Regions from separate parts of the Homo sapiens genome. Here region 1 is linked to region 2. Evidence: fine-mapped expression QTL. Tissue or cell type: stomach. Region 2 holds a variant in brackets; the other region holds the start of a gene. All regions are shown on one strand. Distances are between the middles of the regions.

Region 1 (5,626 bases), 57 kb after region 2:
CAGTCGTGGGATTGCTAGATTGAATGTTACTCTATTTTTAGTTGCGAAATCTCTGTACTGTTTTCCATAGGGGTTGTACTAATTTACATTCCCAACGACAGAGTATAGTACGTTTTTTTGTATGAAACTTTTATTTCAATGTAAGTTTGTATTGGGTTGTGATACCCTCCTTCTTAGCGGAGATGCAACAAAGATGTTCTTAAAAGATGTGTCTTATAAAGCATATTTATTAACCCCTTTTTATATCGATGTAAACATCTCCCAGCCTGTAGCTTCCCTTTTTGTATTGAATTATTTTTCTTTTGCACTATTTTAATTTTTCATGTGGTCAGGCCCAACAATCTTTTGTAATTTCTTATTTCAGTTGTAAACAGAAATTCATCTTGTTTCTACAGAGGTGATAAATGATCTATCCTATTTTTTGTCAACTCAATTCTAACTGAAGCATTCTCTGGACACTCGGAACTTCTAAAAATTCACGTTGGCTCAGCAAAATGCAAATGAAGAGCTCTGGTGCAAATGCTATTATGGAGTGGGTAAATTGAGAATGTGTGATAATCACGAGATCACATGTCCCCATTCTCACTTCCAGTTGTCAGTTTATGCTGCCTCAGCAAAACGAGTTCTGGGGCAAATGCTGTATAAGCAAATGTTATAATTATTACCCAAAGATAGCTACCAAATGATGAAAAATATTGAAGAAGAAGTCAAGTTGAAAACGCCAGAACGCATGGAAGAACTCAGAATAAGACAAGAGAGATGGGTTTGGAGACAAAACTGTCAGAATAGAGATGAGTAAAAGGATAGTAATAATCGTTCCTGATTATTGTGTATTTGCCCAGCTCATTTACTCCTCACCACCGTTATTTCCATTTTGCATTTTGCATTCCATTAGCATTATCTCCATTTTACAGATGTGAAAACTGCAGTGCAAAAAGCTATGCGACTTAGTCAAGGTCATCCAGCTTAAATAGGTGCCTGGAATTGGAACTGCAAACCCGATTCTTAATCACTGGCCCATGCTGCCTCTGACGTGGGAGCTAGAGGTTGTAGCTAAAAGAAAAAGGCTAATATCTGGAGACAGCATCACTTACAACTCAAGAGTTATAAAGGGATATTGCAACTGTTCTATGGAAACTTTCCAGATTTCTCCCCCCCTTCTGGAGAATTTATTTCAAATACCTGGATCTAGACATCTAGAATAAAAGCAGTTTCTGCCATGTACAGTGCTGGAGATAAGGGCTGATGTTTTGTATTTCAGCTGTGATTTTCCTGGATTCCAGTCGGATCATGAAATTTCCTAACAAAGACACACGAGAGACAGTGGGTCAGAGCACACAGTTAGCAGCCAGTGTGCTTGGATTTGCTACCAGCTCAGCCTCTTTCTAGCTGTGTGATTGGGGCACGTTTTCCTCATTTTTAAAGTGAGGACAATAATAGAACCAACCTCAGAGGGCTGTTGTAAGACAATGTCTGTCCATAGCAAGTGATACACTAGTATTCGTTATTTTATTATATGCTATAATTATTTCATTTGAAGCTGATATATTTCATATTAGTTATTTTTTTCTGGTTGGATTTTAGGAGACAATCTAGTTTTATCAGTAGCATATTTACAGATAGGGTGTTTCTATGTTGATTCTTGTAAATTACATTGGCATTTTCTTATCTAATTCTTCAGTTTCCAGAATACCTGATATTTGAGAGGGGTGGCCATATGTTCCAGTTTACTCTTGTTATGCTAGTATCACTCTATCTATACTCAAATGTCCCTGTTTGGAAGAGAAATCCTGTGGTCCTCCTATTTGGAGAAGTGCAACCCTCTTACAGGGGGTCACTGTTACATTATATGGGCTGGGTCAGGAGGTGCAAAGCTGGCATAAAATCAAGGATAGTGTGTTTTCTTTTCATCATTTTTCATGCCAGGATCCCCTTGGCAAGCTGCGGAAGCTTTTGGAGCCCTTCTAAGAAAAATGTTTTTAAGTACATAAAATTAAACACACAAGATTACCAAGGAATTCTTTAGTTTTGAAAGACTGCTATCACAATATTTTTAAAAACCAAATTTGTAATATGATAATATATAGGCTTTTTATTAACGACTAAATAACAGGTCTAGTGACAGGTTTAATAACTCTGGTAATTTCAAAGTAGTGATGCACATAGATGACATCGTGAGATATTCCTAGTAACAGTAATGGGATATAGCAAGAGCTGTGACTTTCTATTTGTGACAAAGTTACAGGCCCCACTTCTGTTCTCTATATTCACGATAGAATGTAATATTTTCCATGTCCATGTTCACAGACCTCTCGGATTCAATCCAGACCTCTTGTGGGTGCCAGTTTAAGAACTGCTGCATGGGCCATGCACGGTGGCTCACACCTGTAATCCCAGCACTTTGGGAGGCCAAGGCGGGCAGATGGCTTGAGGTCAGGAGTTCAAGACCAGCCTGGCCAACATGGCGAAACCCCATCTCTACTAAAAATACAAAAATTAGCCGGGTGTGGTGGCAGGTGCCTATAATCCCAGCTACTCAGAAGGCTGAGGCAAGAGAATCGCTTGAACCTGGGAAGCGGAGGTGGCAGTGAGCCGATATAGCGCCACTGCACTCCAGGCTGGGCGACAGAGTGAGACTCTATCTCAAAAAATAAATAAATAAGAAAAGAACTGCTGCACAAGAGTGAATGTTTGAAGCAAGCAGGAGGGAGGCGAATTGCCCAAAGATCAGGAAGAAAAGAAAGAGGCTGGGATGGTCATAGATCTGCCGAGGAGCACAAGAAGTGAAGAGGAAAAATGACACGGAAGATGCCAGAATGTGGACTGATGGAAGTAAAAGGGCAGGAATGGTCTGACAGATGTCTCTGTTGACAGAGGATACCCCACCCAGAATACAGCCCGTCAGAAACGGGAATGTTCACAGTGGCCCAGAGCGCGGACTTTGAAGCCTGACACACCTAGGCGTGAACCCCCGCCCTGCTGCGTTTATCAGCACGTATTTTGCACAAGTCATTTAACTGCTGTGTCTTAGTTTGTCTTCTGTTTAGTGGGGATAATAATACATCCCTTACAAAATTGCTTTGAGCAGCAGTCTCCAACATTTTTGGCACCGGGAACTGGTTTTGTGGAAAACAATTTTTCCACAGACCTGGCGGTGGGGAGGTGGTTTCGGGATATTATTATTACATTTTAATACATAATGAGATAATTATACAACTCACCATAATGTAGAATCAGTGGGAGCCCTGAGCTTGTTTTCCTGCAACTAGACGGTCCCATCTGGGAGTGATGGGAGACAGTGATAGGTCATCAGGCGTTAGATTCTCATAAGGAGCGCGCAGCCTAGATCCCTCGCATGCGCAGTTCACAGTAGGGTTCATGCTCCTATGAGACGCTAATGCCGCTGCTGACCCGACAGGAAGCGGAGCTCAGGCGGTAATGCGAGAGGGGAGTGGCTGTAAAAACAGATGAAGCTCTGCTCGCTCGCCCATCGCACGCCTCCTGCTGTGCGGCCCCGTTCCTAACAGGCCATGGACTGGTACCGGTCTGTGGCCCCGGGAGTTGGGGACCCCTGGCTTTGAGGATTAAATGAGACAGTGTATGTAAAGGGCTTTTTACTGCACCTATTGGATTGTACCACTTCCATCAATAGCTCTGGCAACAGTATCATTGTCGTCGCTGTTACTAGGAAGGTCCACTTCCCAGCAGTAAGCAGGGCCTCCCACCAGGGATTACCAAAAATCATTGTTGACCATTTGTGGCCAGAAGGGGGAAGCATACACCACACTATAAGCTCAGGAGGCTAAGGACGGGGAGTGGCGAGTGTGGATGGGGACTTCCTTTTGCTCACACAGGCTGAACTCGATGACCGAGGCTTCCTTCGCCCCCTTTGCTTGGCCATGGTGCTCGGAAGCCTACCGGTCCTTGCTGTAGGACCAAGCGCACCCAGACTGCCTAGGCACTGTCAGGGATGTTCTGGTGAGGAAGGCAGGCCAGGGACCCGGCAGAGACCAGCTGGTGTATATCCCATTCTAGCCAAGCAGCATTTGAATCACATACATCGAGAGGGCAGGTGCTGGGGTCAGGGAAGAATTCTACCACACAGTAGTTGGAGCTACGTACTTCCTTCAACTCTTCATGTTATCTAACTTTTCACCTGCTTTCTTTTTGGTAGGAATATCATCTGCCCTCCACACAGTCCCAGGAACGAACAGGCTTTACACATGCTGTGCCCAACTTAGAAACATCTAACCTAGAATGGCCTGTTCTGTCCTCCCTCACCCCACCATGAAGAAATTATTGCCCAGCCTGGGCCACATTGTGAGACTCTACATTAAGAAAAAAAAAAGCCAGGTATGGTTGTGCACACTTGTAGTCCCAGCTACTTGGGAAGCTTACTGGGAGGATTGCTTGAGCTGGGGAAGTTGAGGCTGCAGTGAGCCATGATCGCATCACTGCACTCAAGTCTGGGTGACAGAGCAAGACCCTGTCTCAAAAAAAAAAAAAAAAAAAAAAGAGGAAGAAGAAGAAGAAATTATTGCCGTATTTCTCCCTGTACAGAAAATTATGCAAAGTTTTTCACCTAGAGCTACCCATACACACATAGAAAGAAATCTCCTCTACTTTCGTGGCAGAAAAATAACAAGTTGTAAGGACCAAGATCTTATCGTACTATCCTTTTGCAACCCTTCTGCAGGGACATCCAAGAAATAAGATGCAACTAAATAGGATGGTAGGAACATCGTACATGAAACATCATATATAAAGCTGTTTCTAAGGGAAAATGCTACCCTCTTCCAAGAAGCTACCCCATGACTAATTTGCAAATCTGCACCTTGGGGAATAGAACAACTTCATTGATTTATTTATTTTTGAGACAAAGTCTTGTCTCCCAGGCTGGAGTGCAATGGTGCAATCTTGGCTCACGGCAATCTCCGCCTTCCGAGTTCAAGCAATTCTCCTGCCTCAGCCTCCCGAGTGGCTGGGATTACAAGTGCCCACCACCACTCCTGGCTAATTTTGTGTTTTTAATAGAGACTAGGCTTCACCATGTTGGCCAGGCTGGTTTCAAACTCCTGACCTCAGGTGATCTGCCCTCCTTGTCCTCCCAAAATGCTGAGATTACAGGCATGAGCCACCGCGCCCAGCCAAATAATCTCTTTTTATATGTCCCTTAGCATGTGCCACAACACTAGGCATTTAACTAGGACTCCAAGAATACTTATTGAATGGTACTAAAATCTGGGAAATGGACAGAGAGAGTTCAAGAGATCCCACTTGGTTTTCCATGGAATGGATTTTAAGTTTTCTTAAAGTTTTTTAAAGAATCAGAACCCTTTTCACAAATGAAATCGTACATACAATTTCAACAAAGAAGATAAAAGGGAATTTGCTCTGGTTGAGGCAGTGAGGACAGGGAGAGAGGACACCTACACCACCCCTTCCTTGCCTCCTCAGCCCAGGGAGGAAATCCAGGCCTTTTCAGAAACACGGTTTGAACCATACAGCCTCCCACTGGATAACAAAACAATCTGGTCTCTAGTCCAGATTAGGCCACGAGTGGATGGCCTGGGGTTTTCAAAATCATGTGTTCAGACTAAGAGGTAGGTGACCTACAGAAAAAGAA
Region 2 (5,626 bases):
TCCTACATGAAATGACTAAATAGAAGGGAGTGGGGAATAATTGGCTGGGGTGGAACTGCAGACTGCAAGTTGTCTCCCCAAATTCATGACATTTACTAAATTCCTAAATTTCTGCAAGCTGGAATATGGGCATGGCAGCAACTCAACTTCAGCCATCCACACCCAATGCCCTAAGAAATCATGGAGCAACAAGGTGGAAGGAACAGAGCTGCCCCTCCCACCTGGACAGCCCACCTTGGACCTGGTACTGAGAAAGAAACAAACTCTCCAACTGAAGGCAGCTGCACATTCAGTTTCTTGTTGGAGTAGCCTCTGTTGTACCCAAACAGTACTACGGCACTGGTGCTCAGCCCAGCCAAATAGGAGGGACTCCATGTCAAAGAGCCATTCCCAAGCCAATGATTCTCAATGTCTTTTTTTTTCCCACCATAATAGACATGATGAATGACATTTACATATTCAACAGTCTCATGGGCAGACTCAAATTTTGAAGAAACTGCCCCAAATCCTTTGGTCAAGTGAAGCCCCAGGCTAGCCCTGGTTGCCCACAAGTCTGATAGTCCCTTGCCAGGCTGCTCAGTGTAAGTGGAGGCTGGGGAAGCTGGGCTGGGGTTATGCACAGTTCCTGGCCCTCAGGCTGAAACATCCCCAGTTCTTTCCCACTCTAGAAGTAACAGCGATGTGCAACAGAGACTGCACATTTGGGTATTAAAATGTGTGAATCACTCACAAACTGGCAGGTCAAGACAGAACCATGGTGAGCGCTTTCCCTTGGCAGGTTGCATTGGTGCAGGGACTTGAGCAGAGCCCTAGGAGAGAAAGGAGAAAGGGCCTGAGGCACTGCTCCTTCTTGACGCCTAGTTTTTGTCCCATAGTAATATTTACACCACTTTCCAGACCCCGTTACACTTTATGTCATTGATTCTCACTGGTGGTTGTGTTTCTTAGAGAAGGAGAAGGAATTGGATCCCAAGTCCCCAAGGGCACCACCACTCTTGGGGGCTCCCTTGCAGGGGTGCCTGCCTGTGATACAGGCACTTGGCTGCTTTACTCCCCAACTCCACCCCTATGTGGTTTTTATCCCTGGCAAGCTGGCTGGGCCAGGACACCTGTCAATTATTTCATTTGTACCCTGAGCTTGTAAATCCCCAAAATTGGAGACAAGTCTTGTTTAATTTAGAAAGTTTATTTTGCCAAGGTTGAGGACGCGTGCCCATGACACAGCCTCAGGAGGTCCTGACGACATGTGCCCAAGGTGCTCAGAGCACAGTTTGGTTTTATACGTTTTAGGGAGACATGAGACATCAATCAATACATATAAGCTGAACACTGGTTCCATCTGGAAAAGGCGAGACAACTCGAAGCAAAGGCAGGACAACTCTAAGCGGGGAAGGGGCTTCCAGGTCATAGGTAGATAAGAGACAAATGGCTGCATTCTTTTGAGTTTCTGATTAGCCTCTCCAAAGGAGGCAATCACAAGCATTTATCCCAGTGAGCAGAGGGGTGACTTTGAATAAAATGGGAGGCAGGTTAGCCTTAAGCAGTTCCCAGCTTCACTTTACCCTTTAGCTTAGTGAATTTGGCACCCCAAGATTAATTTACCTTTCACAAGCTGTAGGCCTTGTTTGGAGCCAGGGGAAGGGTGTCACTGTCCCCTTTCCCTAAGGCACACACCATGGTCTTGGCCATCTGAGTAGTAGCACTCAGAACCTTTCTTCTGAGGGACTGAAGCAGATCTGGTCCCAGCTACACACTTGATGCATCTCCTACACAGGGCACTGGCCTGGTCCTTGAATGCTCCCAAAGGCAGGGTCCTTCTAGGAGGGGTAGCTCCAGATCTTATGGCACCAGGCATATGAAGAGGAGAAGAGAATAAGGCCATCTTAAAAAAGAAAACCCCCCAAAATCCAAGGTAGGAATAGCTCTAAGACAAGACCACACTAAGGAGAAGTTACTCCACTTAGAAAATAGGAATTTAAATCTTTTTAATCCTCCTCCTAAGAACTTCTTCCTGTAAGTCAGAGTCCAGCTTTTGACCCAATCAGTTATTCTCCCCAAACAGTGGGTGGAGTGGGTGTTGGAAAGAAAAAACCTTGAGCACCCGATAGAGGTTGAATGGGA[C/T]ACACTCTTAACAGCCCTATGAGGCAGCAAGGACTGTTTACTATCTCCATTCTACTATGAGGAAACTAAAGTCCAGAGAGGGTAAATGATTTGCCCAGGATCACATGACAGCTTAGAGGCAAAGCCAAGAATAGTTCAATCTACCTGACTCCCTCCCATTCATGCTTCTCCACTGCCTCAAGATGGCATACAGCTTCTGCATCCCCTTCTCAAATCTCCCACCCCAGAAACTTACCTGATTATTTACCCATACATACTGACATGTCCTGAAACATAAACCCACCTTCCTTGGTTAGAATTGCCCTGGAAGCAGAGCCTGGACGAGGACTTCAGTGTAGATGGCCTTTTGGGAGGAAATCCCAAGAAGCAGGAGTGAGGGAGTGAAGAGAGAGTGAGATGCAGAGGGAAGAAAAGCAATGGGATGTCATGGAGCTCATTACAGCTGTGGTAGCTGGGGCTTGGTCTCACCAGGCTCCTCTCTGAGGAACCCTGTAGGATGCTTCTTAGATTACCTCGCCAGCTGGGCATTTACCCTCTAACTCCTGTCCCCCACTGGTTGAAGATCGCCCACATAAGCTTCAATACTGCCCCTCCCACACTTCCAGACTGAGTAAGATCCACGAACTTCAGAAGTTGCCCCTAAGCAAGAAAGTGAAGGCATGGGGCGAGTGTCCAGCCAGTATATATCAGAATGGCCCAGCACAGCTGCACTGAAATCAGAGGTGGGCTGAAGGCAGGGCAAGAGAACCGCTTCACCACCCTTAAGACAGTTGGGGTCAAAAATGACATGGAAAGTGGGAATGACAGTGAGCGACTGGATGAATGAGATGCATGCGGGTGGCTGGGGAGGATGGACTGTGATGAGTGGTAGGAATCTTTTGCCTCCACCTAGGTTTTCTTCCAAAAAAAGCCCAGAATCTTGAGTCAGAAGATTGGCTCAAGTCCCAGCACTGCGGGGATCCATCTGTTTCACCTAGGACAACTAATTCTGTTTCTCTCACATACGTCACATGATGTTGTGAAGACCAACTGAGCTAATGTACACAAAGGGCTTTGTAGTGTGACCCGCTACACACAGGTGAGTTGCTGTTGTTGTTAGAGACTGTAGTGTAAGGGCTGCTTGGGCTGTAAAAATCTCATATCCTTTCCTTCAGTACAACCAGTACCTAACTTTTCCATTTCTAATACGTAATGCAATTTTAACCTACAATGTATCAATGCTCCTTGCCCCTGGTTCTGCTAACTTTCATTAATTTTTCTCATTTGTCTTCTGTTAAATTGCTTTAAACATGCTTGTTTCAAGCTCTTAGACTTCGCTGCTGGGAGTAGAATATGGTAGAATTCATATGAAGACCAAGTTGGCAATATCTATCAATATGATAAGTGCATTTATCCTGTGGGCCAGCAAAACCACTTCTGACAATTTATTTTTCCTGATTATCTGCACACACATGAGATACTTAAGTACAAAATTATTTATTGCAGTATTGTTTGTAATAGTGGGAGACTGGAAAGAGCCTGAGTGTTTACAATAGGGTATTTGTTAAATAAACCATGGTACATCCACACAGCAGAATCCCATGCAGTTGTTACAAAAAACACATCCCAAACCCCTGTATGTTCTAATACAGAAAGAGCTCTAGTTTATATTGCTAGATGATAAAGTAAGATGTAGACCACTATAAACCGTATGCTACCTTTTGTATATGGTAAGGAAAAAAACTGAATATAGGAGAAAATAATAAAAATGATTACCAGTAAGGGTTGAAAGCTGAGAAGTGGGGTGAGCAATGTCAGAGATGAGAGTGTGCCTGTTCAATGCATGGCTTTTTATTCATTTTGATATTTGAGCCAATGTATTGCCTACTCAATAATAATAGTAATAATAATAACAATAATAAAAAAAATAGTCCAGTTCCTGATTCTTTCACCAAATGAAAATGGGAAAACATAGCTGGGAGAGAGAAGCAGACTTGGTTTACCAGATGGCTGGTGGCAGAACTAAAATTCTAGTAACAAAGGGCTTGGGGAAATTCACAATTGCCGGATGTCTATATGCTCTAATGACTCTAGTGCTCTGCTGTTATTAGGAACTTTGAAACAAGGAATCAAAAAGTGCTCCAGTCAAGTTCACTAACTACGCAAATAGGGTGGGGAGAGATATGAAGGTTTCTTAACATTATTACCATGATTATTTATCAGGAGCTTTTGCATGATTTTCTCATTTGATCTCCCCAACAACACTGTGGGATATTATTATTATCATCATTGCCTCTTTTTTATAGATGAGAAAACTAATCTCAGAGAGGTTAGAAAACTTGCCTGAGGCTACAAAGAAAGTTGGCAGTGCTTCCAGGATTCAAAAATCAGGCTTATTTTGATTATGAGAGAAAAAAATAATCAGATATAAATCCAAATTATCCTACTCAGCTATTTGTTCAAAAACTGTTCAGTGAGCATCTAAGTGGCAGGCACTATATGAGAACCTTGCTATGTATCTAGCAGATTGACTTTCCTTAAATATAGAATTGATGCCTTTTGTAGTGTGTTTCTAGGGTTCTCTGTTTCCTGTTCTGTAGAAGGTATGGCAATCCTAGCCACTTGCAGTGTGAGAGGTGATCAAGGTTGACCCCTTTTATCACAGATTTTCACTCTATTGATGGTTGTTTAAGCCCTCCAAGAATGAGGAGAGACAGTAGAGTCCAGGTTACTGGCTCAGGTGCAGGTATCCTAAATTCTGCTACTTTGTGGCTTAATGAATGTCCTGTAGTCTGATCAATCAATCCTTGGGGAGGAGGAGCTAGTAAAAGTAGCAAAAAGAGGGCAGAGGTAGAAATGTGGTGGTTGGGGGGTAGAGGTATCCCCCTGTTATCCCCCCATCTTTCCCATTTACACACTCATATCTGAGCAATGTTTCCCTTGGACTGTCAGAGAAGTATAAATAATGAAATTCCCCAAATCTCAGTGAGAGAATAGACATAATTTTATATTTGTGTTAACAACCTAAAAGAAAGATTTCCAGCGTAACTGAAAGCTTTTGGTAAAATGTGATGCTGATAAGTATTGAACCTAAATGATACTTTTCAGGGATCTTTCTCAGGCTGTGCCTGAAAAAAATGGTTATAGAAGCTCTTTCACTTGTGTGAAGCCCACAGGACAAGAGGGTGACTTTTCCTGATGGCCCTTCTGTTCCAAAAAGGAAAAAAATACTGAGAAATTTGGGAAATCCACCACATCATATGACATCCATTCACAAAACAACTTACAGCACTCCAGAGTTTGTCAGTAAGAGGACCCAGAGCAGTGCCTGCCTATCTAGGACTTGTCTGAGAAACTTCCCATATAGTGCAGCTTTTTCAAGTCTGAAACACCAGATTTCCTTGGGTATGTTATTCCCAACATCCCTCTCACTCACGCTAGATCCAATTCCATCCGATCTGAACTGTTTCCCTAGTTTTATCTTCCTTGAAAGGTACTGAGCTCAGAGAATTAAGAGTCACAGGGA

Alleles and levels. Positions count from the first base shown, and alleles are read on the strand shown. Sizes are in standard deviations (SD) of each study's normalised expression.
For the expression in stomach of the gene that starts at base 3,328 in region 1, allele T in region 2 goes with a lower level than allele C (small effect, 0.34 SD a copy in GTEx).

The links. PIP is the estimated chance that this variant, and not a neighbour inherited with it, causes the effect. A credible set is the group of variants that fine-mapping cannot tell apart.
Region 1: LINC03060 starts here. The variant in region 2 is the best candidate, but not a certain one, in a credible set for the expression of LINC03060 in stomach (GTEx, PIP 0.64).

The regions. Positions count from the first base shown.
Region 1 is chr7:134,429,093-134,434,718 of GRCh38, forward strand. It overlaps LINC03060 (long intergenic non-protein coding RNA 3060), which reads right to left and starts at 3,328. Exons shown (of 3, transcript NR_183392.1): 1 at 3,222-3,328.
Region 2 is chr7:134,372,332-134,377,957 of GRCh38, forward strand. All of the region lies in intron 1 of LOC105375518 (a long non-coding RNA gene), which reads left to right. It overlaps LOC105375517 (a long non-coding RNA gene), which reads right to left and starts at 2,020. Exons shown (of 4, transcript XR_928000.4): 1 at 1,603-2,020; 2 at 731-809. The variant C/T (reference allele first, on the strand shown) is at 2,122.